Homo sapiens: one gene and its partners. The protein of the gene in region 7 purifies or fractionates together with the protein of the main gene of each other region. This does not show direct contact. Each region holds a gene or a part of one and is shown on either strand. Other genes may lie near its edges.

Evidence for each region.
Region 1: the proteins of LTN1 (region 7) and RIC3 purify together in Homo sapiens (co-immunoprecipitation; one large-scale study listed by IntAct). This does not show direct contact.
Region 2: the proteins of LTN1 (region 7) and IRAK4 fractionate together in Homo sapiens (co-fractionation; one large-scale study listed by BioGRID). This does not show direct contact.
Region 3: the proteins of LTN1 (region 7) and FILIP1L purify together in Homo sapiens (affinity purification with mass spectrometry, with the first as the bait; one large-scale study listed by BioGRID). This does not show direct contact.
Region 4: the proteins of LTN1 (region 7) and NPAT purify together in Homo sapiens (affinity purification with mass spectrometry; one large-scale study listed by BioGRID and IntAct). This does not show direct contact.
Region 5: the proteins of LTN1 (region 7) and HIGD1A purify together in Homo sapiens (affinity purification with mass spectrometry, with the first as the bait; one large-scale study listed by BioGRID). This does not show direct contact.
Region 6: the proteins of LTN1 (region 7) and DHCR7 purify together in Homo sapiens (affinity purification with mass spectrometry; one large-scale study listed by BioGRID and IntAct). This does not show direct contact.

What each region holds. Positions count from the first base shown.
Region 1 is NC_000011.10:8,105,081-8,108,845, reverse strand, and holds the end of RIC3 (protein RIC-3 isoform a precursor), read left to right. Parts: 3' UTR 1-2,790; downstream 2,791-3,765. UniProt on the Homo sapiens protein: Molecular chaperone which facilitates proper subunit assembly and surface trafficking of alpha-7 (CHRNA7) and alpha-8 (CHRNA8) nicotinic acetylcholine receptors.
Region 2 is NC_000012.12:43,764,879-43,769,908, reverse strand, and holds part of IRAK4 (interleukin-1 receptor-associated kinase 4), read right to left. Parts: intron 1,807-5,030; 5' UTR 1,798-1,806; coding exon 1,637-1,797; intron 1-1,636.
Region 3 is NC_000003.12:99,827,715-99,832,435, forward strand, and holds the end of FILIP1L (filamin A-interacting protein 1-like), read right to left. Parts: intron 2,892-4,721; coding exon 2,700-2,891; 3' UTR 1,097-2,699; downstream 1-1,096.
Region 4 is NC_000011.10:108,156,089-108,161,080, forward strand, and holds the end of NPAT (protein NPAT), read right to left. Parts: coding exon 4,792-4,992; intron 2,932-4,791; coding exon 2,854-2,931; 3' UTR 1,127-2,853; downstream 1-1,126. UniProt on the Homo sapiens protein: Required for progression through the G1 and S phases of the cell cycle and for S phase entry. Activates transcription of the histone H2A, histone H2B, histone H3 and histone H4 genes in conjunction with MIZF.
Region 5 is NC_000003.12:42,781,943-42,786,014, forward strand, and holds the end of HIGD1A (HIG1 domain family member 1A, mitochondrial), read right to left. Parts: intron 3,379-4,072; coding exon 3,329-3,378; 3' UTR 966-3,328; downstream 1-965. UniProt on the Homo sapiens protein: Proposed subunit of cytochrome c oxidase (COX, complex IV), which is the terminal component of the mitochondrial respiratory chain that catalyzes the reduction of oxygen to water. May play a role in the assembly of respiratory supercomplexes.
Region 6 is NC_000011.10:71,432,855-71,436,626, forward strand, and holds the end of DHCR7 (7-dehydrocholesterol reductase), read right to left. Parts: intron 3,120-3,772; coding exon of another isoform or gene 2,986-3,119; coding exon 2,521-2,985; 3' UTR 2,337-2,520; coding exon of another isoform or gene 2,256-2,336; 3' UTR 1,557-2,255; downstream 1-1,556. UniProt on the Homo sapiens protein: Oxidoreductase that catalyzes the last step of the cholesterol synthesis pathway, which transforms cholesta-5,7-dien-3beta-ol (7-dehydrocholesterol,7-DHC) into cholesterol by reducing the C7-C8 double bond of its sterol core.
Region 7 is NC_000021.9:28,926,739-28,931,385, reverse strand, and holds the end of LTN1 (E3 ubiquitin-protein ligase listerin), read left to right. Parts: intron 1-63; coding exon 64-231; intron 232-875; coding exon 876-938; 3' UTR 939-3,242; downstream 3,243-4,647.

The DNA of each region.
Region 1 (3,765 bases), on a different chromosome or scaffold from region 7:
AGGATTCCCTTATTAGAGATAAATACTGCTGTTCTCTTCTAGCTCATTCATTCATTTAGCAGTCAATTGCTCAGTGCCAGGTGCTAGGAACAGAGGCTCAATCTCTACCCTCAGAAAACTCAGTGTGACGAGAGAGAGCCTGACAGATAAAATGAACTATGACCCTGTAAGAGGGCTCAGGATCGTGAATCCTGCAGGCAGAGAAACATGAGCCATAATCTGTCCCTGCATTTTCTAGCTGTGGAATCTTGGGTCAGCTCCTTAACTGGTCTGAGCTTTGGCTTCAGGGTAGTAAAGGGAGGGGTATTAAAGGTCCTGGTTAAATGAAATCATCAGTGTGTGTAAAACAGCATTGGTTCTAGCTCATACATGATAACCACTCATTAAGTGGTAATTATGTTTTTATTATAAGGGCTATGCTGTAATTCAGACATGGGCCCAAAACTACAGGAAAGATAAATTGTTTTTGCTAAAGTATTGCCAAGAAACTTCACAGTTTCTTGGGAGGTGGGCCTTGAGGCATGCAAAGAACTTCTTCAGGTAGGCAAAGAAGAGAGGACACTCTTGGCAGAAAGAGTTGTTGAAAAAAGCAGTAGGGTGTGAAAATACATGGATGTTCAAGTATTTTGGTGAGGCTGTTATGTAAAGTGTTGTTGGTCTTTGGGGAAAATTGGCTTATGGAAATTCCTGCCAGAAGTACTAAGCCCTTATGGTGGTTCTTCCTGCCCTAGCTCTTGGTTGGTTTATATATAAGGAATATATTTGTGTATTTATATATCAGACATTTGGATGTACCTTTCAGTTATTTAGGATTTAGAAAATTCTTTTTGGATTTTCCAGAATTATTTTATCCTTCGGGGATGACAGTTATATGTGTATATACAACCCAGGATGACAAAATCATGGGTCCGGTTTTTGTTGCCAGGGCTGCTGTCTCTTTTCTTGCGGTCTTCATTTCTCACGAGGGTGCTGGGAACTTGATCAGTCCCCTGGCCTTTTGGCACTGTGGCAGAGTACACAAGTCATACCTTTATGGACAGTTAGCTCACAAAACAACTGCATAATCTGGGATCACTCTTGGTAAATCAGGTGGGTGGTGCAGCCAGGAGATCCCCTTTCCTGGTCACAACAGGAGCACAAAGAAACCATTATCTCCATGACTAGCTCCAGAAGCTGGGCCCAGGGAGTCGTGATGAGGAGTGGAGGTGTATTTGGCCTGTAGAATCAACGGCCTTTGAGAACCATACAATGCACCTTATATGGCTTGGGTGATCAAATAACTTAAGGTCCAAATTCAAACACTTTGGAAAAAGGGAGCTTTAATATAATTATGCCAAGGTGATAGGCATAAACTAAGACTGTCCTGGACGTAGGGTCACCCCTGTCTATAGCCATTTAAGATTTTTGAACCTGATGACTAAACAAACAAAACCCTCTTTCCTTTTTAGAATATCCTGTATGCGCTATTTCCCACCAGAGGCAGAGGCCACAGGAGATAGGCCATGGTTCAGGTAGGAAATGCTCTTGGTCACATCAGAACTCTAGATCTGGGGGAATAAACAAACCCGAATTATTACCACACTCTCAAAGTTCTCTTCAATCTGGACTATTTGTATTCCAAAGAAAAATTTAGTGCTTTAGCTATTCAGCAATATTGAGAAAAAACATGAACACATTTATGACTTTGCCTTGACCATTGACTTTTCTAAAATGTGCTTCCTTTTCCTTTATTTCCCTTTTTTTATACAAAGAAAATAGCCCAAATTTCTCCTCTTAGGTCATTCCTTAACCTCTCAGAGAACCAGTTTCCCCATGAATTGGGAATAATGCTCTATTTACAGGGCTGTTTGGATTAAATAAGATGCTGTTTATAAAGTGTCTGTGCCAGGGCAAAGCATGTGGTAGGTGCTTGGTGACAGCATGATCCCTGTCACCACTCTGTCAAGTCCAGTGTTGCTGAGATGTCACACCTGACACCCTCTAAGGCTACCCTGATTGCCAGGAGTGGCCCAGGGCCCTTCTGCAGTCTCCGGGTGCCTTTAGTTATAACCTCTTGTCTGGGTCAGACCATTAGCTTTCATGTCTGCTTCTAGCTACAACTGTAGCCTCCCTTCCTTTTGCCTTCAAATCTGCCACAGCTGCCCGGCAACAAAAAAAGATTCCTAAGCATCTCGAGGTCCTGTTTAAATGGGTTAGGGTCCAAGCAAGCCCTGAGACATCAAGTGGTTGGGTCTTTTATACCTTTTTCATCTCTACAGCCCTGTTCTCTTCCTAAGGCCAGGCCCACAGGGGATACTGAGGAACCACCAGCCCCTTCAGGCGGCACAGCAGACCCTGAAGAGAACTGCTCTAACTTAAGTACCTTCTGACTTCACCATTTTTCCAGCCTCTGGGTGTGGTTCTGATGAACCTTAAACTTGAAAGGCACAGGCCAGAGGAAGGACAGTGTTGACCCACATGTCATTGGTGAGGTTATGATCTCTTTGCTATTATCACCTACTTACCCACCTGAGGCTCCTAGGAAACAATGAATGAAAGGTATAGAAAAAAATTAGGAAGTAAACAGGGCTTTTTTCCCCTTTATGAAAAAAGTACACAGAAGTGTTGAAACGATTCAAGTTTAATTTGTTGATATATGTGTGTACTTAGACAAACACTAAATTCTACAACATACATAATGTCAACATGGGAAAATACCAAGTTTGTCATTGCACATACCAATAAATAAATACATTTGCTCCAGAATACCAAAGTTTATTCAAAAAGTCAATAAAAGCACAGTTTTGCAAATTTGTCTAAAACGCCAGATAATCTTGAACAAAAATAAAATGTCTGACCACTCCAAAATAGGAAAAGACAATCTTGTGCAAATAGACATACACAGTCTAGGCATTGTGAAAACTGGCTGTGTTCCCAGCAAGAGATACTGCACCCTCCTGACCGAGCAGTCAGGCTTCCCTTTCCTAGCCATCCTAAGTTGCGTTCTAGGAAACTCTGGATCTCAGCCTCATCTCCAGCTTTGCCTGGACCTTGCTAGGGGGAGGGAGGGACAGGAGCACAGAGGAGGAGAGGAGAGGGATGTGATGTCTTTCTTAGGAAAGAAAAAAAGGCACAGTGATGAGCTATAAAGGTAGTGATGAGAGCTATAAAGGTAGTGATGAAAGCAAGGAATAATTTTCATTCACCCCAAATCCTACGGCAAGCTTTGACAATGTAACATCTTTATCTTGTGGTTAGGAAAATGGACCTAGAGAGATTATGTGGTTTGCTCAAAATCACATAGCTACTAAGTGCAGTAGTGCTTTCTATAAGACCAACTTGCCTTTCCACTTGGTTGGAAAATTTAAAAACCAAACCTGTCGTAATCTATCTGTTCTGCCCCTCCCGCCTGTATCATGAGATGACTGAAAATTCCAGGTGGCCATAAACTCAAACAAGAGCCTAGCCCTTGGCTTATTACCGGTGGCTACTACAAACCTACAGACCAGAGCCCAGGGTAGTATAGAGTCCCAACTCTGGGCCCTGACTGCAGGTCATTCAGGTCCCAGTCACAGTGAAAGCAGACTCATTCAGCTATCTGGAGAAGTGTAATCTGAGGGCCACTTGGCATCCTGAGTTAACACAGGGATGCCGCAGCTGGGGTAAGGAATTAGAGAAGGGAAGGCCAGTGTTACTGCAGTAAGAGAAAACCAGGAAGTCCATCTAGGAGATGAAATTTGTGCTTGCATAACAGAGCCATGGAAATGGCTATCCCAGCATCTCCCC
Region 2 (5,030 bases), on a different chromosome or scaffold from region 7:
ACAGCCTAGATTTATCTGACTACTTTCTCATGATTAAATTCAGATTAAGCATTTTGGTAGAAATACTACATAGGTATAATGTGCCTTTCCCATTGTATCACATCCAGGGGTACATATTAGCATTTTGTACCATTATTATTGGTGCTAAAGTTTGATCACTTGGTGAAGGAAGTGTACTTCAGATTTCCTCATTAAAAATGTACCCTTCTCTTTCATACTTCACAAGTAATTTGTGTACAATACTTTTTCTCTATCTATTGAGGGGGTCTTGCTCTGTCACTCAGGCTGGAGTGCAGTGGCATGATCATGGCTCACTGCAGCCTTGACTTCCTGGGCTCAGGTGATCCTCCCACCTCAACCTCCCAAGTAGCTGGGACTACAGGCGTGCACTACCACACCCAGCTAATTTTTTGTAGTGATGGGGTTTTACCATGTTGTCCAGGCTGGTCTTGAACTCCTGGGCTCAAGCAATCTGCCCACCTCGGTCTCCACAAGTGTTAGGATTACAGGCATGAGCCACTGTGCTCAGCCTATAATACTTTAAAATCTTGTGCATATCCTGCTCACATGCACGAGAACAACCACCTTTCACCTTATGCTTTTAGGTTCAGTGATGAGCCTTGCATGAATCAGTTACTCATTGGTGGTTGCAAATAGGTATTTTTCTCATTCTACCATTCTTTTCACAATTATTTGCAGGTATTATTCTGTAAAGAAAAGCTTTTTCTGTCACAGGAATGAGTCTTGGAAAAAAGAAAAAAAAAAGAGAAGAGCTTTATCTTCCTGCCACCACTGCCCCAATTATCTTCCATAAGTTTTTAACAGTAATATCAAAAAATTATCTTTAAACATTGGCTTAACACAGTTTAAACTTAAGCTTCTTTCAAGTAATTTAACATGTTCGCTCTTCTTATGAGGAAATATTTCCTGCAAGGGAGCCAAGTCTTTTAGGTTCTTTCCCAGATTAATGCTGAAAATAACAAATAGTCTTCTTTTCCTTTTGCTACCAAAGAAACATTTTGACATAGGTTTTAACTGCAATGACTGACAAAAATAAAATATGCATGCATATTTTACACTAAATTGAGCAGAGATGAGTAAAAAGGAAAAATTGAAATTATCTGAAGACAGCACTGAGAAATCCTAGCTAAGATTTAAGAATTCTGTGCACAGAAGTGTACACTTGTAAGCAACAACTTTAAAACGTCAAATTGAAAAAGTCCCAAAATACATTGTTAGAGTGTGTTAGAGATTCACACACTTTGAAATTTAAGCTCTAGATTTTTACCAGACATTCTTGTAACATTCTTATTTTCCTTCAATCTGGAAATGAGAAGTGTGAGGCAGAGTGAACTTCACTTGGCTTGCCAAACAGGGAACCACAGCAAAGGTGGGAATCTTGATTCTAACCCAAAAAACTTATTTGAGAGATCACAGTATTAGCCCTATTGACATATGGGACAAAGAAGACAAAACTGCAAAAGGAACAATCAAAAAGAGGTTACCTACTACCAATGTCTCCTCCATAGTGGAGAGGTTTACTTTCTAAACTGCCACATTAGACAGTACTTATACCAATTAATCATTCCATATTGTGATGTAAGAATTTAAAAATACAAAGAATTTTATCTGTTACCTTATGTGAAACTGATTGTATCTATCATCACCAGATGGTTTTTTAATAGCTACAGCTAACTTCTTCCATCCTTCTTGAGGATCAATAAAATCTGACAGCTTCCTAATTAGTCCAACATTGAGGCAGCGCACATATGTTGATGGTGTTATGGGTTTGTTCATCTTCTATTCCTAAAATATGGAAAAATCTCATTAAAATTTTACAGTACTTTTAGAGATGACATCTGTAAGCTTATATATCACACTTTGCTATATCATATGAAATGTCAGCAACTGATTATACCATAATAAAGAAACATTCCAAAGTCAAGTCATTGATATCCTAAGATGAAATTAAAATTGTAATTCATTTGTCCAATTATCCTCTGGGTTTGCTTCCTTTTTCCACCCATTAATAGCAATAAAAATCGGAGGACTTTTTTCTGACACTGATATTTTCCTAGTAAAATTTATAGAAAGGGGCAAAAAACTTACCAGAAAAATTCTTAAGAGTAATATCAACAAACTATCAGAATTAGCATATTCAGAAATCAAATCTATTAATAAAAACATTTACCTTTCAATTTATGTTTCTCAATTAGTACTTATTTACAATTAAAATTTATGCAACATTCTTTGGTAGAAGTAAAAAAAAAAAACGTACTGAAATGATTTGTGTAGCATTAACAGATATGGTCCACCCACCCACTTTTCACATACTTTGCTCTTCCTTGACCTCTGCACATTTTTTGAGTCCATGAGATCTGCCTGACCACAATTCATTTGCTACTACGCCAAAACCTGTGCTTCACCACTTCAACTACTCTCTAGACAGAATCTTTATTTCTGCAATCCCCCTTTACTTCTGCTACTCCATCCTGGAGAGCTGCAGCCAGGGATAAATCTAACAACTTTACTTGTACACCAGGGTTGCTGATGTGAATACAAATTTATGGTAACCCCCTTTCCACAGGGCCTTCAACACTGCCGTTAATCCTTCCACTTGTCTTCTCTCATAGTCCTTAGTGACTATTTCATACCTTTACTTCTTTCTATGTGGATTTTATTTGTTCTGCGTGTCCCTCATTCTCAATAGGAAATGATCTTTCCTTCCAATTAAGACAAATAGACTCAGATATTCTTCTGTCAATTATTTTTGCTTCCCTATATATATTTTAAAAATACAATTTTAGAGTAAATAATGTGTTCATATGGAACAACATTCTAAAACTATCAAAAAGAGTAAAAAGCGAAAAGCTTCTCTGTATCAGAGGCTTCTATGTTAGTATTCACTTCTTCTCTTTGGACTTCTTTGACCACATCTAAATAGGTCTAGCTGCCCTTCACCTAATTATCTTTCATCACTGCACAATGTATTTGTAATCATATACTTATTTGTTTACCTGTTTACTGTCTCCCATATTCGATTTTAAGATCCATGAGTTCAGGACCATGCTAATTTTATTCATGAATATACACCTAGTGACTTGCATACTGTAGATAATGGTATTGTTCAGTATTTACTTTTGGAACAACTAAATTATTTCCCAGTACAGTTTTATCATCTCTATTTTACAAAGGTGGTAAGTGAGAGATCCAGGACTTACAATTATGTCTGACTCCAAAAGTCATGCCATACAACTCTGCTTTTATAACACAATGCATTGTTCATGCCATTCTCTATTTCAGAAAGACCATTCCTTTCCTTTCATTCATGAATACATTCAGAAAATATTTATGTCAGTCTTTGTACTAACAAGTGGGAGCACAGAGAAGAGAAAATCTTTGTTTCCAAGCTGTTCAGTATACCAGGGGATACAAACAGTGACAGGGAGTGATAAATGCTGCAAGAATGTTATGGGGCCCAGAAAAGGGGCATCAAGCAGAGGCAGTCTGGAATAGGGATATCAAGACAGATTTGGTTGGAGTAGGAGGTTGGAAGGATGAATGAAAGGGAATGAGGATAAGCCCAAAAGAAAATTCCAGGCAGAGGGAATAGCATGGGAAAAGGTAAGAGCATGTGTGTCTCAGGCAAAGAGCTTGCTATGGCTGGACCACAGGATGCCTGTGATTAAGTGAGAAGAGATGAGGGTGGAAAGGTAGCAGGGCCAGATCATCATGTACCTCATGTGCTAAGACAAAGAGTTTGAACTTATAAACTAAAAGTTACAGGAGAGCCACTTTAGGATTTTTAGGAGGGATGTTAAATAATCTTATATGGTTAAGTGGATTCCTCTGGATAAAAATCAAAGGGATGTATATTGAGGCAAGAAAATTAGTTTGAAAACTTCTGCAATAATCCAGGTGAGCAGAAAGGAGAGCTTGGAAAAAGTATAGGGTAGGGGAATGGAGAGGTAAAACGTCAAAACATTTAGGAGGCCAAATCAAAACAATTTCACTAGAGATGAGCGATTAGAAGAAAGGGAGATAGAATGAAGTTTTTTTTTTTTTTTTGGCTCATGTTAAATGTGAAATATCTACCTTTGGCACTATCTAGGAGCCTTCATACCAAGTACTTATATATGTGGTCTGGAGCTTAGGAGAGAGGTTTCAGCAAAGAATGCTCATTATGTAAGTATTCTCATATATAAGGGGTTTTCAAAGAGTTCATGGAAAATGCATATCGTGCAAAAACCATGCATGGATTTCAATTTTTTTTTTTTTGCAAAATGTATTTCCAAAATAAACTCATACTAACTTATCATTCATGTCTAAACAGGATCTAGTTGAGACACTGAGAAGAATAAGACAGTTTGAAAAGAACCTCTACCACAGCAACATGAATTCTGCTAAAACTAAAGCAAGAACAAACACCACATTTATGGTGGAGGTTGGTTGGAAGAATGGTGAAATCACTGATGCTTTATTTATGGGGACAATGCCCCCAGAAAATCAGCAGTGTACAAATCAGTAACTCATTTTAAGGGATGAGATGATGTTGAAGATGAAGCCTGCTGCGGCAGACCATCCACATCGATTTTCGAGGAAAACATTCATCTCGTTTGTGCCCTAAATGAAGAGTACCTATAATTAACAGCAGAACCAACAGTGAACACCATAGACAACTAGTTCAGCCTATACAATTCTGACTGAAAATTAAAGTTGAGCAAACTTTCCACTTGATGGCTGCCCAAACTGTTGTACCCAGATCAGCTGCAGATGCGAGCAGAGCTTTCAATGGAAACTTTAAACAAGTGGGATGAAGATCCTAAACCATTTCCTCAAAAAATTGTAACAGGAGATGAAACATGACTTTACGAGTATGATCCTAAAGCACAATCAAAGCAATGGCTCCCCCAAAGTGGCAGTGGTCCAATTAAAGCAAAAGCAGACAGTCAAAAGCAAGGGCATGGCTGCAGGTTTTTGGGATGCTCAAGGTATTTTGCTTGCTGACTTTCTGGAGGGAAAAAGAATGG
Region 3 (4,721 bases), on a different chromosome or scaffold from region 7:
TCTGCCTCAGCCTCCGGAGTAGCTGGGATTACAGGCATGCGCCACCATGCCCGGCTAATTTTGCATTTTTAGTAGAGACGAGGTTTCTCCACGTTGGTGAAGCTGGTCTCGAACTCCCAACCTCAGGTGATCCACCGCCTCGGACTCCCAAAGTGCTGGGATTACAGGCGTGAGCCACCGTGCCTGGCTTCTACCTAAATTTTTTAGTACTTTGTATACTATCTTGTCCCTCTTTTTGTGCTTCCTCTTAAACTTATGCTAGCTTGGATAAAAATGTACTTTAGGAAGTCTCCTGACATGGGAGAAAACAATTTTGAAAGCTTCAACATACAACGTATTTTGTGCTTCATTTCAGAGTAAAATTTTTCCCAAGGTATTTTGTTTTTCTGGGACTATTGTTAGTGCATGTTGTTTTTCCTGTTTTATGCTTCTTTTCAACCTGTTTGGTTTTCACTAAGGGATTCCAATGGGTTTTTTTTCTATTAGCATAATTACCAATGTTGAATGTCACCTGGGCATAACTACTTTTCCTAACCCTGTCATACCATTGCTATCTCTTAGCATGTTTTCTCAAGTGAGAAAATGTCTTGACTGAATGGCCTTCTCTTCTTCATTTACTCATTCTCTATTCACTCTAGATTTATCAAATACCTGCTCTATGTGAGGCACAATACTAAGCACTCTGTACATACGTGTATTTTTTTTTTTTTGATGTTAGAGCTTCATCACTGCACCCTTTTTTTTTTTTTTCCCCACAAACAAGGTCTTGCTCTGTCAGTCAGTCTGGAGTGCAGTGGTGTGATCATGCTCACTGCAGCCTCGGACTTCTGGGCTCAAACAGTCCTCTTGCCTCTTCCTCCTAATTAGCTAGGACTACAGGTGTGCACCACCACACCTGGCTTTTTTTTTTTTTTTTCTTTTCGGAGAGACAAGGTCTTGCCAAGTTGCCCAGACTGGTCTTGAGCTCCTGGCCTCAAGAAATCCTCTCACCTCAGCCTCCCAAAGTGCTGGGGTTACTGGCGTGAGCCACCATGCCCAGTCTTCACCTTCTTTTGTAGTCCATCCCCTTCTACTATTCTCTTCCTGCTTTCCTTTCACTTCGACTTTTCCATTTCAGGCTTTTAATTCACTTGACCTCCCCCTACTGCCCTCTGCCACTTGCCTGCTGGGACTGCTGCCCATCATCCCTCTCAATGCTGCCTATCATCCCTCTCAATGCTGCCCATCATCCCTCTCAATGCTGCCCATCATCCCTTTCAATGCTGCCCAGGCCTCTAGCTCCTTCTCCTCCTTGAAATTGCAGGGGCCTGGGGGTGTTTGTACAGTGGCATTAGTGCAATGAGGTGGACTTAGTTAGATAAGTATGGGGAATGGGAGTTCCTTTACTCTTGCTCTGCTGGCTCCAACCCAGGGCAGCTGGCTAAAGCAGTCCTTAACCATGAGGATTTCTTCCAGGGTCATGCTTCCAGTTTTTAGTGAAGGATCACAAAAAATGTTTAGTGTCGTTCCATTGATTTTTTTCCCCCCTCGATTGAAGCTTTTTGAAATGTTTTTTGAACTGCCTTTTGTGTCAAACATGCCTTGTCTTAAAATGTCCTGTATTACTCTGTCCACACTGAATTACAGGCACACCTTTCTCTCAATTCAATGAGAGAGTTTTCAGTGTGATGTAAAGAATTGCTTTAGCTTTCTGCCAGGGGACTGTGTCTACCCTTATAGATGACTGTTTGAATTCAACATTTTGTATTAATAGTTGGGCATATTCATAGGTTATCAGAACTGGAAGGGACCTGAGGAATTATTTCACTTTCCTGTTTTACATGTGGAAACTCAAGGCTTAGATTGATGAATGCAAAGCTCGTTGTCACATGAATGAAAATCTAGGATTGGAATTTGAGTCTCCTAACCCCAAGCTTTTGTTGAATCAACTGATTTTCGATAGTGTTTATTCAGAGAAGAGATATGAATAAACAATGTCCTGTGAGATGATAAATTCTGTATTTTTTCAAGCACCTGGAATATTGATTCATGTCTCCCTAAAATATCTCAATGTTACTGAGACTAAGTGCCAGTGGTCAGGTATGCTTACTACACCAGTGATTGTCAGGTATTCTGCACAAAGGATATATTCGGCTGTTATTCACTTTTGTTATGCTTTTCCTCCTTTAAGAATTATCACTTTGCTTTTTCCCTCCTGGTCATAAAGAAATCATAGTTTTAGACCTTAAAGTGTGATTTTAATTGTCCTGTCATCTTGATGGAAATAATCTGATTTTCTTGACTCAGATTAGGAATTTTTGCTATCACCTTTTCTTAGCAAAATATGATTAATCAGCAAAGTTCTGTAGAATGAAGAATTACTTCTGTTTTCACCAGAAAACTCTTGAACTGTTCTAGTGAATTCAGTCCTATCCCAGGCTGATTCTAGATAGTTCATCTTTGGGTTAGATTATATGTCGGATGAGGAAATGGGTAGATTTGGGTGTGGGTCTAGGCCTGCGAGTGTTTGTGTGTGCATATACACATATAGAAGTAAAATAATTGTAGACGTGCTGCTTTTTGGGGGATGATCTTCATCAGGTCCACAAAGCTGCTTCACCATTTCCTGGAGAGATGGTCCTTTGGCCTTTCATAGTGGTAATTTTAGCTTTCCACATATTTCTGTAGATGAATGTATCCAGGCAGTGCATTGGTATGAGTTACCTTCTCCCTCCCACGTGGAGGAAGGTGTTGGAGGTGACAGTTCTCACGATGTGTAGCTTCCCACAGCCATTTTGGTAAATAGGCTTATCCATAGGCACTGTGGGGGCTTTAGTGGAAATCTTGGTGATGCCTGTAGATTTCGGTTTAGGGATCCGTGCTGGGATTCTCTGCTTGCATACCTCCTTGATCTTGAATTAAACAAGAGAACAAAAGGTAATTAATGGTACAGTTGGTGGAGAAGTAGAAATTGTTTAGGACATGGAGTCAGTTTGGAGGATTTGGCTTTGAAAGCACCAGTTTCTGGGGATGTATCAGATCAAAGATCGTCAGGTTGAAGAAAAGAATGTCAGTAAAGTAATCTGGTGTGTGTTGAATGTGTGCTGTGTGCACAGTTCTTGATAGAGATAGTGGTAGATACAGAGATGAATAGATATTTGGCAATCACGGTGTAGTAGGACATATACAAGAGTAGTGTCCCAAATTAATCTCAAAGAGCCATGAGATTGCCAGAGAAAGGTTAATTTCGAATGAGATTGTCTTTAAGAGTGCTTCATGAAGAATATGGCATTTGACTTGGGCCTTCAGACTTTTAAAAGTTTTCACAGTATGAGTGAGATGGGCAGCTCCAATGATGATTAGTGGAACAGCTTGGTAGTATGTATCAAGAGCCTTATGAATCTTTTCTAGGATGTAGAGAGGCAGTCAAGGATATTTGATTTTAGCATTGTTTATAATGATGAAAAATGGACAGTTAAATGAATAGGATGTGTTAAATGAATTATAGTATAATTATGACAACATGCTTTGTTAATGAGGCCAAAGCTTCAGGAAAACGTTTACTTAGATATGTTAAAAGTAGAATTTAAAACTGTGTACATGCTTTAATTATTTACATGTGAAGAGAAAAATACTAAAAGAAAATGCACCCATGCTATTGGTTGTTAACCCTGATTAGTGGACTTACAGGTACTTTTGATTTTTCTTACATTTTCTGTGTTCTCCACATATTTTATAGTAAGTATGCTATGAGAAAAAGGAACACTAAATTGTTTTAAAAGACGAAAAAGGAAGGAAACAACTTGGAGATCAGGACATTTCTGTGAACAACCATATTATCCAAGCCATGAGCAGTAGAAGCTGCAGTTGAAGTCAGTGACAGACTAATCAAGTCTGCTAATATTGTGACTATAGCATTAATAATAGCCTTCCCAAGATGGATTTCTGTGATGTCCTGTAACTTTATCAAGATTTAGATTGGGTCTCCAATTTAGTGTTCAAAAATCTATGTTGGGATCGTCTTTAAATTGTAGATTTCTGAATCTTACTCCTATGCATTGTAATTCATTGGTTTGTGGATATGTCCAGCAATTCACATTTTTAATAAACTCTCAGAGTGATTTCTTCAACTCAGGTGGTTGGCCTACCACACTTGGAAAAGTGCTGCCATAATTGAACTTCCTTTAGATGTAAGCTTTATTTTTTCTTCACCTGGAACTCTAGCCTACCTGGGTATGCATAGTTCAATACTGTGAAAGGCCGAGACAGATTGGTATGACACACAGTATTGGTGGAGCTCGTTTCTTTTGAGCAACACTGATACGTGTTGGTGAAGAAAATGTGGCTTGGAATGGTGGTCACTGATACTTTCAGGCCCAGCTGCCTGAAGGTTACTGGGCTCCTACTTGTTTCTACACCATTGATGTGCAAGCTTTTGTTTTCTAGGTAACTCCATTTTCATTACGTAGTTTTTACCTCTAGATGGCAGCAAAGGCTTGTTATTTTATCAGAACAACCCCAATTGTCATTCCTAAATCTTTTTTTTTTTTTTTTTGAGACGGAGTCTCGCTGTATCACCCAGACTGGAGTGCAGTGGCGCGATATCGGCTCACTGCAAGCTCCGCCTCCCGGGCTCCCGCCATTCTCCTGCCTCAGCCTCCCCAGTAGCTGGGACCACAGGCGACCGCCACCACGCCCGGCTAATTTTTTGTATTTTTAGTAGAGACGGGGTTTCACTGTGT
Region 4 (4,992 bases), on a different chromosome or scaffold from region 7:
ACAAATGTTTATAAAAATGCTCACTGCTGTTTTTGTTTGTAATAGCTAAAAAAAGGAAAAAGCTTTATATTATTGGAAGTAAAAGCAGCAGCTGGATGAGGTGGCTCACATGCCTGTAATCCCAACACCTGGGAGGCCGAGGCAGGAGGACTGCTTGAGTCCAAGAGTTTGATATCATCCTGGGCAACATAGTGAGACCCCATCTCTCTGAAAGACAAAAACAAAAAACAAAAAACAAAAAAACCAAAAAAACCCAAAAAACTGGGTGCGATGGGATATGTCTGTGGTCCCAGCTACTCGGGAGGCTGAGGTAGGAGGATCACTTGAGCCTGGGAGATCGAGGCTGCAGTGAGCCATGATTGTGCCACTGTACTTCAGCCTGCAACAGAGTGAGACCCTCTCTCAAAAAAAAAAAAAAAAAACAAAACAAAAAGCATTAGGAAGCTATATGTACCATGTGTTCAACAATGTAGATACAAATTTACGAAAAAAAGACAAAAGTATGACAAAATGATAACATTTATAAAAAGAAAAAAGTACACAATGAGTCCATTGCTTAAAGGAAGCAGCAAAATAACTAATAATAAAGTCAAAACTTATGTAATTTCAGAAAGCTGGGCCTGAGCCTAAAAGATGATGACCAGAGAAAGGATGAATGCAGAATATATAGTAATATGCTTTTGAAATTACTCCTAATAGTCATGACATGTAGCCTTTGCATGAATGCTGATGGATGCTTTTCTTATGCGCAATTTCAACACACTATAGTTCTAATATATCCAGGGCTAAATCTGTAACAAGATTTTACTTAACAACACTTCTCAGATTTGGCATACACTGACTGCATTAACCTCTAAGTAATATCCAAACAACAGACTGGATCCTCATATGTAATTATAAAAACAGCCATGGATTGTTGTAGTATACATCAACCCTGAAATGCAGTCACTGGGCATTTAAGTATTCAAATAGGTTACCAGGTACAATAGTATAATTAAGTTCAGGACCTGTGGACTTTTAAGGTAAAATGGGGATATGATTTTGCTCTTGAACATAAAAGCTCCAAGTACAAGTTATCTTTCAACTTTACTTAGCAGTTCCTGGTTAGTTAACTATGAATCTTGAAGAAAGTAAACTTATTTTATTTGTATATGAATTTTCAGTGCTTAGTACATACAACTATGAATTGAATAAGAAGAAAACTGTGATTTTCAGCATTGTACAAACTCCCAAAAAGAACTGACTTGCAAAGGAATTTAATCAGTTTCTAAACAAGACTGCCAATGTAAAGTAATTCAAACTTTTGAAGTTAATGAAAATATTTATTCAAACCTAACTGTAGTACAGTCTCAAGCTGAGTTAAATAAACATTAACTATATGATATTTAGTTCCTTAGGAATAGACCACTGCCACACCATACAAATTTCTTACATCACAAGTTTTTGCAGTAAGGTTCAGCAATTAAGAAGACATGATTTCTACACTGAGAAATGTTGTGTTAAAGTTGGATGGATTTATTTTTTTAAAGGCCCAGTACAAAAAAATGGTTGAGGAAAGTGACTCTTCAACAAAATATACACCTGTAGAAAAAAATCCCTAATATACTGATATTTAATTGAACGGAAAGTACTAAAGAGAACATACTTTAATATCTAGGCACAATTGGTCAGGTACTAATTATAATTTCTGTTCTCATTTAAAAGTTTAAACCAATTCTTCAACTGGACTGATGTGTGTGAGTCTAATACAGAGAAGGCACCTCTCTCATCTCTCACTCTCCTTAAGGACCTTTTGAGAGAAACTCTTTGTAACACTTTAAGGGACACAGACAATGCACTATATCTAAGTATAGATATAGTTATTTAACATACCCATTGTAGGAGAAACTAAAATATAAAACTATGATTTCTCTTTTTACATCTTATGATGGACACAACACCAGAAGATAATCCTCCACATAAACTCTCACATAGAACACAAGATTTAAATTATATGTGCATTGGTCACTACAATGTAAAGAGTTCTATGAATTAGTGCAATTCTTTAAATCCCCAGCATTTAGGGGAAAAGTACATACCGAGAAATCTCTACTACAAACCAAAATTTTATGGCTCAATAGTCTAACCACTTAAAGTTCTGTAAAAAATCTTAAGTTATAAATGAAAGATCAGAACATTCAATAAATGGTTTACAAAATTCTCTCTTTAAAACAAAGAGAACAGAGTGATCAGAGTAGGTAAAGTGTGAAATTCCAGAAATATAATACTTACAGCAATTATAAGAAAGGGGTAGTATTCACTCTAGGAAAAAAACTCATCAAACTGTTGATTTCTAATTAGATATTTTGCTATCAGTTGAGGTGGTTATTATTTTGTAGTACTTAGTGATTGTGTATTTAAATGTCTTATTGAATAGTTACTGAAGGTAATTTATAAGAATAAGCATCATTTTCCTCCAAAACAAGTGAGAAACTATTCCAGATGAGTAAGTCTCAGAATTAGGGATCATAAGAAGTCAAAAAACACAGTGTAAGAACATTAGGTTGATTTAACCTCTATTTCAACAAGATTTACACAGTATTTACAATATGGAATTGTCAAAGCTATACAGTTTTGCAGATTGGCTTTACTTACATTTCTGCAAACGTTTTTCCCAAAATAAAAATATACCAAGTAAGTCTATTTACAAACTAGGAAGCTGTTTCAGAAACAGCATGATTTAGATATAAAGTGAAGTTTCAGTACAATGAAAGTGCAGGTCATGCTTTCAGATTCTGTCAATATCCCATTCCCTACACTCAGTTTAAGGGATATGAGTTTTTAACACCTACTGTTCTTATGTGTCCAGAATGTTTACTCATCATAATGCAATGATAACAAAAATTTGTCTACATCCATTCCTGCTGGAAATGAACTGGGAAGCTTCTTTTTCTGTTGAAAAAGAGAAAGAAAAAATAAACTCAAAACAAGGCCAAAATGCTTTCTTAGTAAGTCACCTAAAACAGTATATTGGGTTCTTTCACATACTACTAAAATTGTCAAACTTTTTTAGTCTATTAGAATTTTACTTCTATAGAGAAGTAGAGACAAGTTTTATAAACCCAAAGTTACTTAAATATACTTCAATGGCACCTGAATGTTAGTTTATGGCAAAAGACATGATACAAATCCAGAGTGTCTGAATGTTGAATGAGACAAGATAGAACATGCTTTCTATGTTAGGTGGTTATTACTGCTTAGAAAGCTTTACTAACAGATGTTTAGGGTTACAGGTACTTATCAGTTCCAAAACTTAATATACACTAGATACTTTATGTATACTACATTTAGACTTCACAACCTAAGATACCTGGTAATATCATGTCAAGTGATGAGGCTGAGACTCAGAAAGGCTACAGACTTAACCATGATCACAGGACCAATAAGCAGTAGATGCAGGATTCAAACCCAGACTTGTAGGGCAACAAAGCCTAAATTATTTCCCTGATACCATACTTCCTCTATGATATTTTAAGCACTTTCTTTCTATTCAATCCACTTACTAAACAGCTAACCAAATCGAAAATAAATGGATTTCATTTATCAATGCTATCCCTGCACTGCCTTCCTAGAGACAACCATGCTTAAATAAAAAACATAAGGCCAGGCGCAGTGGCTCATGCTTGTAATCCCAGCACTTTGGGAGGCCAAGGTGCGCAGATCACTTGAGCTCAGGACTTCAAGACCAGCCTGGGCAACATGGCAAAAGACTGTCTCTATAAAAAAAAAAAACCAGAAAAAATGACCAGGCGTGGTGGCTCATGCCTGTAATCCCAGCATTCTGGGAGTCCGAGGTGGGTGGATCACAAGGTCAGGAGTTCAAGACTAGCCTGGCCAACACGGTGAAACCCCATCTCTACTAAACATACAAAAATTAGCTGGGTGTGGTGGCAGACACCTGTAATCCCAGCTACTCAGGGGGCTGAGGCAGGGAATTGCTTGAACTCAGGAGGCGGAAGTTGCAGTGAGGCAAGATCACGCCACCGTACTCTAGTGGGTAACAGCGCAAGACTCTGTCTCAAAAAAAAAAAAAAAAGGAAAAAATATTAGCCAGATGCAGTGGCGCATGCCTGTAGTCCCAGCTACTTGGGAAGCTGAGGTAGGAGAATCACTTCAGCCTGGAAGGCGGAGGCTGCAGTGAGCCAAGATCGTACCATTGCACTCCAGCCTGGGCAACGAGAGTGAAACCCTCTCTCAAAAAAATGGAAAAACATACGTAAATTTGATTTTTCCACTGCTCTAATATGCTAACATTTTTAAGGGCCTATGGAAGAGATTACAAGACGTGGGGGAAAAAAAAAACTGAACATCTAAGAACAAAGTCATTTATTACTTGGTAGTTCTACACAATAGTGTTTAATATTGTTTCCCAATCTTTCATGACTATGTCACGCTCATGAAAAAACTTGAGTTCTACCAAGAAAGAAAGAAAAACTTTTTCTTTTCCCCCGGAAAGATGTTTATAAACAAATGCCTCAGCAGTTTTTCCTGAAAATGCTGTTTCACCTAGACACCTTGTGCGTACTACACTAACACTGCTGGACTGCTTTGTTGCCCTACAAGTCTGAGTTTGAATCCTGCATCTACTGCTTATTGGTCCTGTGATCATGGTTATGTATTTTGTCAATGAAAACTAAAAGCTGTCTTAGCCATAACGTTCAGTCAAGTTGTTGTGGCAAGAACTGCTGAATTCGCTAATCACTAAAGCGGAAAAAAAAGGTGTGGTTTTGAAATTAAAACTTTCAAACTTGCCTTAATTTTCTTCTTTTTCATTGGTATTGATGAATTTGTAAGATTTTTACTAGAAGGACGAGAGTTTCGCTCACGTTCATCTAATTCCTCAATTTTCCGCTTTTTTGTGGTGCTCCTTGAAGATGCTCTAAACTGTTGTGTGTTATCTTTCAGAGGAGTTGCTGAAGTAGTCCTAGAAATGGCTGCCCTGGAGAGAATCAT
Region 5 (4,072 bases), on a different chromosome or scaffold from region 7:
TATTATCTGCCCTGTAGGCCAAACAGACTTTGTCTTAGGCCATCGTATGTTCTTTAAGTCCACTGAATCCCCCTAAAAATAACTCATTATCCCTCAAATTGCCACATTTCCTCCATCTCCCCTTCCCCTATGAAGAAGGATATATAAACATCTGTACCCTATTGGGTTACTGAGTAGTCATTATGCCATTCCCCTGTGATATACACATTAAAATAATTGCATGTTTTTTCTCCTAATAATCTGCCTTTTGTCAGTTGATTTTTCAGTAAACCTTCAGAGGGTGAAGGTAAAGTTTTCCCTTGGCCCCTACAATTGTAATCACTTATTTAATGCCAGCCTTCCCTGCTAGACTATAAATTCTGAAAGCAAGGCTCATGTGTCTCCTGTGCTACTGCATTCCCACAGTTAACACAGTAATAATGGAAACAGCAACCATTTATTGAGCTTACTAATGCACTGGGTGCTATGCTAAGTAAGCCCTTTATAGTCAGTATTGTATTTAATCCCAACAACCCTACGCCACTGATACTGTCCCCATTTTATAGATAAGAAACCATGGCTGCTTGGTTAGGAGTGGCAGAACCATGAACCCAGCTCTCATTCAATAAAAAATAGTATCACATCCACTTGAACCACCTAATGTACCATTTACCATTCTTTTCAGGCACACAATCCCACAAATTTCTCATGAACACTCATTAACATCTTAACCCTTCACTTGTTCTTCTCCCCCTATCCTCTGCCATTTGTCTAGATCAATGACTCTCAAATTAGTTATTTAAACAAAACCAAGAGTATTCATCTATTAAATAGAATGAAAATTTTCTGAAAATGTAGTGAAAACTGACCCAGAAAGGTCAATACCAAGACCTGTTAGAGTTATTGGACTTGATAAAGGAATAATTTGAGCAGCCAAGCAAAAAATCAAATCACTTATGTAAGAAAAATGTCACATGACTTTAGGCTTCTCTATAGCAATACTTTAATATTCCAAAGAAAAATATGAACTGAGAATTGTATTATCTAGCCAAATTGTTTTTACTGTGTAAAGGCTACAGATAAACATATTTGACATGGCAAAAATTTAGGGAAATTGTTCCATGAGTCTTTTTTAAGGAAACTATTAAATCATTAATTTCAGCTGACCAAGAGATTAATGGGAATGTTTTGAGTTTCAAATACATTTAAACTGTGGAACTAAGAAATGTGAGGATGACAACAGAATGTAAATATTATATGTCCTCACAAGGTAGGAATGATACAACAAAAATTGAGAGAAAAGGAAAAGAAAGTGGAAGTTCACTGATACAATAATAGTTGGGCACCAGAGTGTATCAGCTAAAGCTAAGCTGACAAGTCAAAGAGAAGTATAATCACATTTAACATACAAAAGTAGGTCAGGTGTGGTGGATTATGCTTGTAATCCCAGCACTTTGGGAGGCTGAGGCAGATAGATCTCTTGAAGCCAGGAGTTCAAGATCATCCAACATGGTGAAACCTCGCCTTTACTAAAAACACAAAAATTAGCCCGACATGGTGGCGCATGCCTGTAATCCCAGCTACTCGGAAGGTTGAAGCATCAGAATCGCACGAAGCTAGGAGGTGGAGGGTGCCGTGAGCTCAGATCACACCACTGTACTCCAGCCTCAGCAACAGAGCAAGACTCTGTCTCAAAATAAACAAACAAACAAACAAACAAACAGTATAAGAGTAAAATCCAATAATATATCGACCAGAACTGGTTAGTAGAGGAGGAGGGAAGGAAGAAATATGCTAGGCTTAAATATTGCTCAAAAGGAATTATTGGTGACTGAAAATAAATAGAAGAGTGTTATAATTATATGGATAATCAGCTGGGCGTGGTGGCTCACGCCTGTAATCCTAGCACTTTGGGAGGCCGAGGCAGGTGGATAACCTGAGGTCAGGAATTCAAGATCAGCCTGGCCAACATGGTGAAACCTCGTCTCTACTAAATATACAAAAATTAGCCAGGCATGTTGGTGCATGCCTGTAATCACAGCTACTCAGGAGGCTGAGGCAAGAGAATCACTTGAACCTGGGGGATGGAAGTTGCAGTGAGCCAAGATCGTGCCACTGCACGCCAGCCAAGATGACAGAGAATAACTCCGTCTCAAAAAAAAAAAAAAAAAATTTATATGGATAATCAATAGAACAAAAATTACCCACAAAAGGAAAAAAAATAAAACATACCATAAAGTAAAATATTTTTAAAATCGTTGAAACAGAAAGGAGAACATGATTAGAGAACAACAACAAAAAAGACAATTTCCTGAAACTTGTTCTCAAATTTGTTCCTCTACAGAAAGCTTTTCCTCATGAAATAAATAAAAGACATTTGACATGGGTCACTTACTTTAATAACAATACATATACCATGTTAACACCATGGAATGCAAATTCAGATTAGACAAGAGAATTTCACAAGTGTGATAGCCTTCTGTATATTATATAAAAGTTTGGGTATACTGTCTGGCCAAACCAGCTTGCTCATAAGTCATTAACCAAATCCATTATAGGTAATTTGTTCAGTTCAATGTTTACAATTCTTATGGAAAAAATTAGCAACACACACATTTAAAACGTGTTCATTTACCTTTGCGTGAGTGCTTAAAATACATATTTCTATTTCAAGATGACATTTAAAAATTATTCTAATATATCAGCAGCAAAAATATAATTTGCAATTACAAAAAACTAAACTAGAATCCTTAAATTATTCTCATGTTTACAGTTGTGATTCTTTAATAAATACTATTATGCAGCTCTATTGTTTAAGCTTTCTGGATTTGGTTTAAACACATGCATATATATTGTCAATTGTGGGAAGCTTTACAAGTTATATTCCATGCACTTTTTGGACAGAGTTCTAACAGAGCCAGCCAGTCCACAAAACAGGCAGACAAAAGTTGAATTAACTGGGGCAAATAGGACTCTTATGCAACATCCAAAATATCTGACATTCTGCAGCAAACAGGGAGTACCTTCAGGATTGGCCTGTTATCTTCTTTAGAACTAAGTTCATCTTAAAAATTTAAGAAGGTGGACATTTCAACACCATCAAGTGCATTTAGGTGACATGTTTAAGTTAACTTGACTTCCTTGAATGACCTAGTTAGTAAACTAGTCACTAGTAATTCGGTCACCAAGCAAATCAAGCCTGCAAGAAAGGAAGCCAATATTCAAAATGCCATGTTACCATCTAAACCCATACAAATTAGTTTATTTCCAACAATAATAGGTAACTTTAATAATAAGACATCTAACTAAAGCAAGCTCCTCCAACAAGACCAAGACAGCATCTCTTCTTCTAAGGCTTAGGTTTTGCCCAGAATTCCCGATACATGGAATAGCCCATACCTAAAGAAAAAGAATGCTAGTTAAGCATTTCAGTATTTTCTTAAATATTCAAAAATAAAAACCAGTTCATAAAATAGCTGAAAGTAGCACCACTGCTAGCATGGAATATTTACAAGGGGAATAAGACCCTAGGAAGCTTATACTCTTGCCTTCTTAAACATCTTAAATCTCTAAAACTCTTGTTACATACAGTAGTTTCCCAAGTAGCAAAGGGCTGGTATGGCTACTTCACATGTTACAATATTTCTTTGAAAGAACAATCAATATTTATCTGGTAACTTTGAAAGGAATCACTCTTGCTACATAATACCAGATAAAGTCAATGAATTATAAAGCCAATAGAAGAAGCATGTAATACCTAAACTTTAAGAATCTCTCCTTTAAAAACACAATAAAATAGCAATTGTATGTCTCTCCCAGATAACAGATGTTACTATCAACCCCAATTACATGTCTAGGCTCTTCAATGAAATTATAAACTCAGTGATTGACAGGATTTTTTTTTTCTTTAAAATCTTAGTAGGATATATCATAGAAAAACTATGTCACTACTTGAATTATCTTCATTAATTCATTTTTTACATGAAAATGAGTATAAGTGATATTCTCCAACTGCTAAAAGGTCAGCTAAAAATATTTACCTATTTTGTTTGTAAAGAAATACCTTAATGAGAAACGAAAATTTGAAATTTCC
Region 6 (3,772 bases), on a different chromosome or scaffold from region 7:
CAGAGATATGTGCTGAGCAATTGATTGTTAAATGTGGACCAGAAAGCAGATCTGCTGGAGCCAACAGCAAGCAGGGTGGTTTCTGAGAAAGGCCTCACCTCGCTTTCGAAGGTTGAGGTTGGAGAGGGTGGGGTGTATCAGGATTGAATCTACTCATGGGAAAATAGCCTCTCTGAATGTGCCCACTGGATTCCTGCCCTGACCCTGTCCTGGGGTACTGGATGCCTGCCCCTTATCAGAGGGCAGTGCCATGCCCTGTAAAGCACAGTTCAGATGGCCCTGGCAATTGGTCCGAGCCGTCCTTCATTCTGGAAGGGGGCAAAGGCCAGGCCAGCTTCCCAGGGATCAGGCACTGTGGCTTCACTGGGAACAGAATGCTCTCTGTACATGGAGAATGGTAGAGGCTGGCACTGTCTAATCTGAGCTCCTGGATCACCCTGTTCTCGCCCAGAGAGAAGCTGGCTCCATCTGGGGATGAGTGAGGGCAGACGTGTCTGGTGGGACAGAGCCTGGGCCACAGCCTTGCACCTGCAGAACCCATTGTACAAACACACAGTGCATGGAAGAGGAACCTGCAGCCCAGCACAAAGCTGCTCAAACAGAAACCAAACCAAAAGCTAACCTCAGCCAATTCAGAGGCAGGTCCACATCTGAACCAAGAGCTCTCCCAGCAAATTGGCCTGGAAAGCCCTTCTCACATCAAGGCAGGAAGATAATAATGACCCTCATCTTTCAAAAGAGGAAGCTGAGACACTGAGAGGGTAGGTCCCCTGAAGGTCATACAGCTCTTAAATGCTGGGGCCAGGATTCCAACGCAGGCAGGGAGGCCCGGATCTGAGCTCACAGTGACCACACCCCAGCCTCTGTGAACTGAATTTACGCAATGTCTGGGAAGAAAAGGCAGGGTCCACTCCGCTCAGAGCCATGCAGGGCAGTGTGCTCCCGTCTCCCCGGCATTTGAATCACTCTTGTGGTGTGTGTCCAGCACAGATGCACGGGACCCCTCAGGCCCATATCCTCAAACAGGTAGTGGTGGGGCACCAGTGCACGAACACTAGGGCTCAGCAGTCAGCCTGGGCGGGTCACAGTTCCGATACCCTCCAGGCTGTCTGGGAGGCGGCCTGGCTGTGGGACCAGTTCTCATGTGAAGCAATGAAGCCACTCTGAGCTTGGCCCCCTGCCCTGGCATGGGCACTGGGCTGCCTGTGTGAAACTCTTGTTTCTCCAGGTGCAAGACAAACCTGGCACTCTTTCTGGCTTCTCCATTCACTTGCCGGGGGCAGGTGGCCAAGCCTGGTTTCATCTCCTTGGGGGGGAATGGAATACTCTCCACATTCAACCCAAAAACAGCCCCAGCAAAGGGCTGACATGGGAGGGAGAGGGGCAGGGTGGCGCCACGCACCCACGGGCACCCAATGCTTTGACGCCGAGACCCAAGCATCTCTCTCAGACATCCCTTCTCATACCAGAAACAGAGCCCACGTATACCAGTCAGACCTGCAGTCAGGCCCATTCACGAGTCAGGCCCATTCACCAGTCAGAAACCACACAGCCACTTATTTGAACAGGGGAAGTTTAATATAAAGATGAACTCTACTCGGAGCATAGAGTTTAAAAAGAGTTCTACACAACACCCTAGGGATGAGGAAGAATGCCTCAGGGAAGAAAGCACAGAAAAGGAGGTGCCCTCCCGAGGCTGGGACTGAGACCTCCTCGCTGGAGAAGGTGTGGGAGGCCCCTGAGGGTGAAGTTCCCCGGGTTGCTCGAGCCAGAGTCTGCACAGTCATAGGGCAAGCAGAAAATTCTTTCGAGAGGGTGGGCGCTCACAGGGAATCGGGAAGCAGAGCCCACCTGCCTACACCTGAAAGGCCACAGCCGGTGCTGGGACCTCTCTGAGGTCTGCAGACTCCAGGCAGAGCACTCCTGGCAGCTGTGCAGCAGGAGCAGGAAGGAAACGACATGAAAGCCCCTTTCTCCCCAGTGTCCCAGTTCAACACCGTGCACGCTACCAAGGAGAAACGGCGCACGGGCCCCACCCACGACTGCAGAGCAGGCAGGGGAGGGGGATCTAGAGCTGAAAGGCAATACATGGATAACGCGCACGCCCCACTCCCACTTTTATTTAGCAAGAGTAAATGCAGCCTAATGACAGGGCGTGGGAAGACCTCCTGCTCACCAGTGTGGGCAGAGTGTAGCGTGGCCTGGGCTCCTAATACAGGTAAATTGTCTCCAAAGGACTAGTAAAGGTGACTGGGTCATCCTCCTGCCCCAGGGACACTGATTAGAGAAAATCCGTCTGTGCTGGCAATACGGCAGTGCTGGACACTCGGAATTCCCTTGAAGGCAAAAGCAAGGAACAGAGCGTGATTAGGTACTGGACACCTGCCAAGTGCTGGGCTCTCTCCAGTTTACAGATGAGGAAACTGAGGCTCCTCGAGTTGGAGCTGGGATGCCAGCCCCCATGGACCTGGCAGAACACGCTCTTGACAGCCCCACAGGGCTTCTCCCTAGGGCGTGCCCTTAGAAGATTCCAGGCAGCAGGCGGTAAGGCACTGCGGCGGTGTAGCGCTCCCAGTCCCGGCCGTACTTGCTGGCGCAGCGGTGCTCGTCCCGGAGGCAGCGGTGGGTCAGCAGGATGGCCATGTAGATGATGTAGAAGTAGGGCAGCAGGTGGCCGCCGCCACAGGCCAGGCAGTAGGCCAGGCTGCCCATCAGGTCGCCGACGTAGTTGAAGTGGCGGGCCACGCCCCAGAAGCCCGACACCAGCAGCTTGCTGTGGTGCCTCTGCCCATCGGCGGATGTGTAGGAGCACTCGATGACCTTGGGCTTCCTGCCCCAGATGAGGCAGCGCCCATCCGTGCGGCGGAACAGGTCCTTCTGGTGGTTGGCCACCCGGAAGATGTAGTAGCCCACCAGGCCCAGCAGCAGGACGCCCACGGCGTGCGGGGTGGACAGCTGCACGGGGTGGTACACCAAGTACAGACCCTGGGGGGCGAGGGGGAAGGGGTCAAGCGGTGCTTTGCCCAGGGAGAGGACAGGAGTGTGGGCTCGGGGGCCCAGCGGCCTGGGGTCAAACCCCAGCTCTGCCTCTGACACACGCCTTGCCTCCGTGTTCTCTTCTGTGAATAAAAGCACCAACCTTGAGGGCTGTTGTGGTCATTAAATGAGTAACTCTACCTGCCTTCTACCTGTCTGTGTGTGTATGTGTGTGTGTATATATACCCCCTATATATATGACATATAGCATAAACATCAAATATGTAACAGTATTAAAAATATAATCTGAATTTAATATTGTGATGGTCAATTTAACGTGTCCACTTGGCCAGGCCATTGTTCCCAGATATTTGGTCAAACACTAGTTGTAAAGGCATTTTTCAGATGAGGTTCATATGTTAATCAGTCAACCAGGCAGAGTGGATGACCCTTCACAATGGGGGTGGGCCTCATCCAATCAGTTGACAGCTTTAAGAGACAGAAGACCCACCTTCCCCAAAGAAGAGGGAATCTGCTAAAAAGTGGCCTTCTGGCCATGCACAGTGGCTCACACCTGTAATCCCAGCACTTTGGGAGGCCAAGGCGGGCGGATCACGAGATCAGGAGTTTGAGACCAGCCTGACTAACATGGTGAAACCCCATCTCTACTAAAAGTACAAAAATTAGCTGGGCGTGGTGGCATGCACCTGTAATCCCAGCTACTCGGGAGGCTGAGGCAGGAGAATCACTTGAACCCAGGAGGTGGAGGTTGCAGTGAGCCAAGATCACACCACTG
Region 7 (4,647 bases):
TTGAATAAAAATAAAATTGGTGGTTATCAGTGTGTAGTGACTTATTTTTCTTCTTGTTAACAGAATGGAAGTATTATGGAAGGCTTAGCTTTATGGAAAAATAACGTAGACAAACGTTTTGAGGGTGTTGAAGATTGCATGATCTGTTTCTCAGTCATTCACGGTTTCAACTATTCCCTTCCCAAAAAAGCCTGTAGAACATGCAAGAAAAAATTCCATTCAGCCTGCTTGGTAAGTCTAAAGAGAAATTAACTTACTTATATTTTATGTATTTTATACACATAAACACACACACACACACACACACACACACACACACCTACACAATGTCTAACTTCGGAAGAGAAAATGTGTGTTAAACTTAATTGTAGCTAATGGGAGATATATTAAAAAGTGATTTTTTAAAATCTGCCAAAGATAATTAGCAGTTTACTGAGACTGGTAGAATCAAGGCCCTCTAATAAATGGGTGTTTCCAGTGACCTTTTACCACTCAAGAAGTAGAAGGTCTTCTGAGATCTAGACCATGAAGGAGAGTACAGGAGTTGGTACTGGAAGCCATCTGGCATCAGAGCCCTGTGCTCTTTTTAAACATACTGAAAAAGAAGTTGCCATTTGTTCATTTGTTTCACAGGAGATTTCTTATATCTTAGTGATTGTGTGCATGAGCCTAAGTAGGAAGAACTTAGTGTAGCCATCGGAAGTAATACTCAATTTGTGTTAATTTTGGAGATAACAGAAAGAGCAAAAATTTTATTGTTCTTCCCTTTTCACTTTATCATTTGAAGGTTACTATAGATGTATGTGTACTTTATGATGTATGTTAGAGGAGAACTTTAAAAGTTCTTTTAGTATTTAAAACCTTTTCTTTTTCAGTACAAATGGTTTACATCTAGCAACAAATCCACTTGTCCACTGTGTCGTGAGACGTTTTTCTGAGATTTTTTTCACTGGAAGGGATCCCTGAAGTACATCAAACAAAGGCATTGGATTTGGATCCGTCTGAAAGTGTGGATGTGGGGAAGCCAGTGAGCATTACTTTTAAATAGGACCTTCTCTGGAAAATTATTTTGGTTAATGTAATAATCCTAAAATCAGGTTTACTTAACTTTAGATTGCTTTGTAAATGTTTGGAAACTTTCTTTTACAAAAGAATATTACATATTTGAGAGAAAATATTTCTATTAATGGTTTAATTTCTTTGTATATTTAAAAATAAATATGAAAAACCCCTAAATTACAGAATTGGAATTTGTGAAAAGATTGCACAACTATATTATTGATAAACCCATTCCGTTTGTTGATCTGTGTTTTAGAATAGTCCAAGTGAAGCAAAACGAACTGAGAGAGCTGATTTACATCTATAGATATTTTAAGCCTTATTTATTAGTTATGACAATAAATTAGTATTCTGATATTTGTAGATTATTTTAATGATAAAAATGACACTAAGCTATTAATACGGCTTGTCTTAAGATATCTGGAGGCATGCTCTGAAATCCTATATAAAAGAGTTTAAACTGAACTTTAAGGTGCCTCCATTTATCAAGGGTTATGAAACTCAGAAAATTAAATTCTTGATGCTGACCTTTTTGCTTGTGGGAGAATTATTTCTATATATTAGTGAAATTTGAATTGTAAACTTGTCAGTGAATTTATCACTCTGAGCGAGTCTCTAGAGGGTGAGAATTTGAGAGAAATAGTAATTTGATTATTTCATTCATGAAGCGGAGTGGTAGTTATCCTTCTATTGAGAGGGAAGAAATAAATGAGTATTACTGAAACTTAAAGATCAGTGGAAAAAAAAAACATTTAAAAATGTTGTAGGAGACTTTCAATTTTGGAAGCAAACTGAGCTATTCTTACCAGCCAAAGTTATACTAAATAAGAGACTTGGGGGAGCAAATGTTTTTCAGCCTTCAGAAATGAAAGTTAAGGATTTTAGCACTAGGTAAAATTCAGTATAATAGGCTGAAGTGGAGTAAGTGAAAACCTGCCTTTTGCCACTCTTAAAAATTGTGCCCAAAATATAAAAGTGTGGAACTTTAGAACTTGGAATAATTTTATTGCAGTCTTCCATTACATGGAAATAGCATATCTAATATCTAGGTTACTTGAGAGACCAGCTAATCATCTCTGTTGCACATGTTTAATTGGCAAAAAGCAATTCATGATAAATAAAATTACTGCTTTCCATCTACTGGGTAAAATGACTATTGAAATAGTATGAATGTGGTCAGAGGATTATAGTTGAGAGTGAAGTACTATGTGTGAGTTATAGATCTCTCGAATTATATTTATAGATGCAGTGTCCTGCCCAGTTTTGTTTGCCTCCTACATTTTACTGTAAAATATTTATTGTCTTCTAGCCTTGAGCCTCTGAGGGTCAGTAAGTGAAGTACAGATAGCAAAATTTTACTACCTCGTTAACCCTTTTCTTAAAATATTCTCTATCTTTCTATGTCTCTTTCTGACATAGTAATCCCAAAGGATTGTGTTACTCCCCGTGAAAGTTATTACTTTTCCTTTAAAAATGGTTTTATAATAAGACTGTTTAAAACCTTTCCAGTATTGGTACATCTTGGCTTCTGGCCCAAACCCCAAGCAGAAAAGAAAATGGAATAATGGAGCATTGTTTTTCCACATTAGTATTAGGGCATCAGATTCTTGGTGAAACACTATAATTAAGTAGTTATAATTAAATAACTGTTCTTCATACTTAGGACTCTTAATACATTTCTTTAAGACTTGTAAGTATAATTGTAAAGCTTGTTAACTGTTTATATACTAAAGAAAAAGCTTTACAAGATAAGACTGAAATTCAGAATACCACATCTGTACAGCGTTGACAACTCTAACTAAAAGGATTACAGCCCTTAAAATTTTAGCTTAAGGACATTTTAAAATTGCATGAGATTAGCAAAATTATTAATTTAAAACCCCAAAGTAAATTGCAAATTTTAAAATTTATTTTTGACTCTTTTATCACATGCTCCAATGTATGTACATAAGTGTCTGTGGCTTAAATAATATGTTGTTATTTGATACATTTTTGTGGTGCAAGTAATTAATGTTATTATTTGATTGTTATACCATATGTGCCCATTAAAATTCTTTTTAATTAAAAATATTTCAAATATGCAGAAAAATAATAATATAAATGCCCTTGTACCCTTCACATACTATTTTGCCATATTTGCTTCTGATTTTTAAATAAATAAAATGTTACTCTTTTGTACTTCTCCCTGGCGCCATTCTCCTCCTTCTTTCCCTAGAGCTAACGTACTAATTCTGAAGTTGGTGTGACTCCTTCCTGTTTAAGATTTTATACTTTACCATGTGTTTTTATCCAGAAACAATGTATAATAGTTAACAAAAATTATGTTAATGATGTTTTATGTATGTAATCTTTTGTAACCTGATTTTCCACTCAACATAATGCTGTTTAGTGTCATATCAGTTTACTTACCAGTTCCCTTACTAAAGATTGTTTAAATTGTTATTTTTTTGCCATTTTGAACAGTGCTGCAAGTGTACATTCTTGATCATGTCACCTCATGCAGATGTGCTAGATATTCTAGACATATGTCTAAAAATGGAATTTCAGCCCGGCACGGTGGCTCACGCCTGTAATCCCAGCACTTTAGGAGGCCGAGGTGGGAGGATCACCTGAGGTCAGGAGTTTGAGACCAGCCTGGCCAACATGGTGAAACCCCGTCTCTAGTAGAAGTAAAAAAAAAATTAGCCAGGCATGGTGGTGTGCACCTGTAATCCCAGCTACTTAGGGAGGTTGCAGTGAGCCCAGATCGTGGCACTGCACTGCAGCTTGGGCAACAGAGCAATCAAGACTCAGTCTGAAAAAAAAAAAAAAAAAAAAAAAAAAATTTTATATATATATATATATATATATAAAATAAATAAAAATGGATTTCCAGGTAGTAGGATGTGTATACTCTGTCACTTTAGATGTCTTCAAATTGCCCTCCAAAGTGATATGCAAGTTTGCTCTCCCAGCTGCAGTTTAAGAGAATTCTGGTTTTCCTATCTTGTCACCAACACGTAGTCTTATCAGAATTTTTAAGTTCTGCAGTCTGAAAGCTATGAGATAGTAGCTCTTTGTTTTAACTTATATTTCCTTAAGAAGCCTAGCTTCATTTCATATATTGGTCATTATTTGACAGATTTTTGTCCATAATCTATACCTATTTTTCTGCTAGGTTACTTGTATTCTTACTGATCATAATGCTTTAGCTCATAGGACTTCTAATATGTGGCTTGTCTTTAACATTTTCTGTGACTATCTTTAATCTCACAGAATTTTTCGGTTAAATTTAATCAGACCTTTTTTTTTTTCTTTTATGATTGAGCCTTTTTTATGTTAGGTTTTAAAATTTTATTTAACTGAGGTTTAAAAAATTCCGTTATATTTTGTTAAAAGTTTTAAATTTCAAAATGTGCCTAATTTACCTGGCATTAACTTTTTTTTTTTTTAATTTTACTTTAAGTTCTGGGATACATGTGCAGATGTGCAGGTTTGTTACATAGGCATACATGTGCCATGGTGGTTTGCTGCACCTGTCTATCCGTCATCTAGGTTTTAAGCCCCACATGCATTAGGTATTTGTCCTAATGCTGTCCCTCCCCTTGC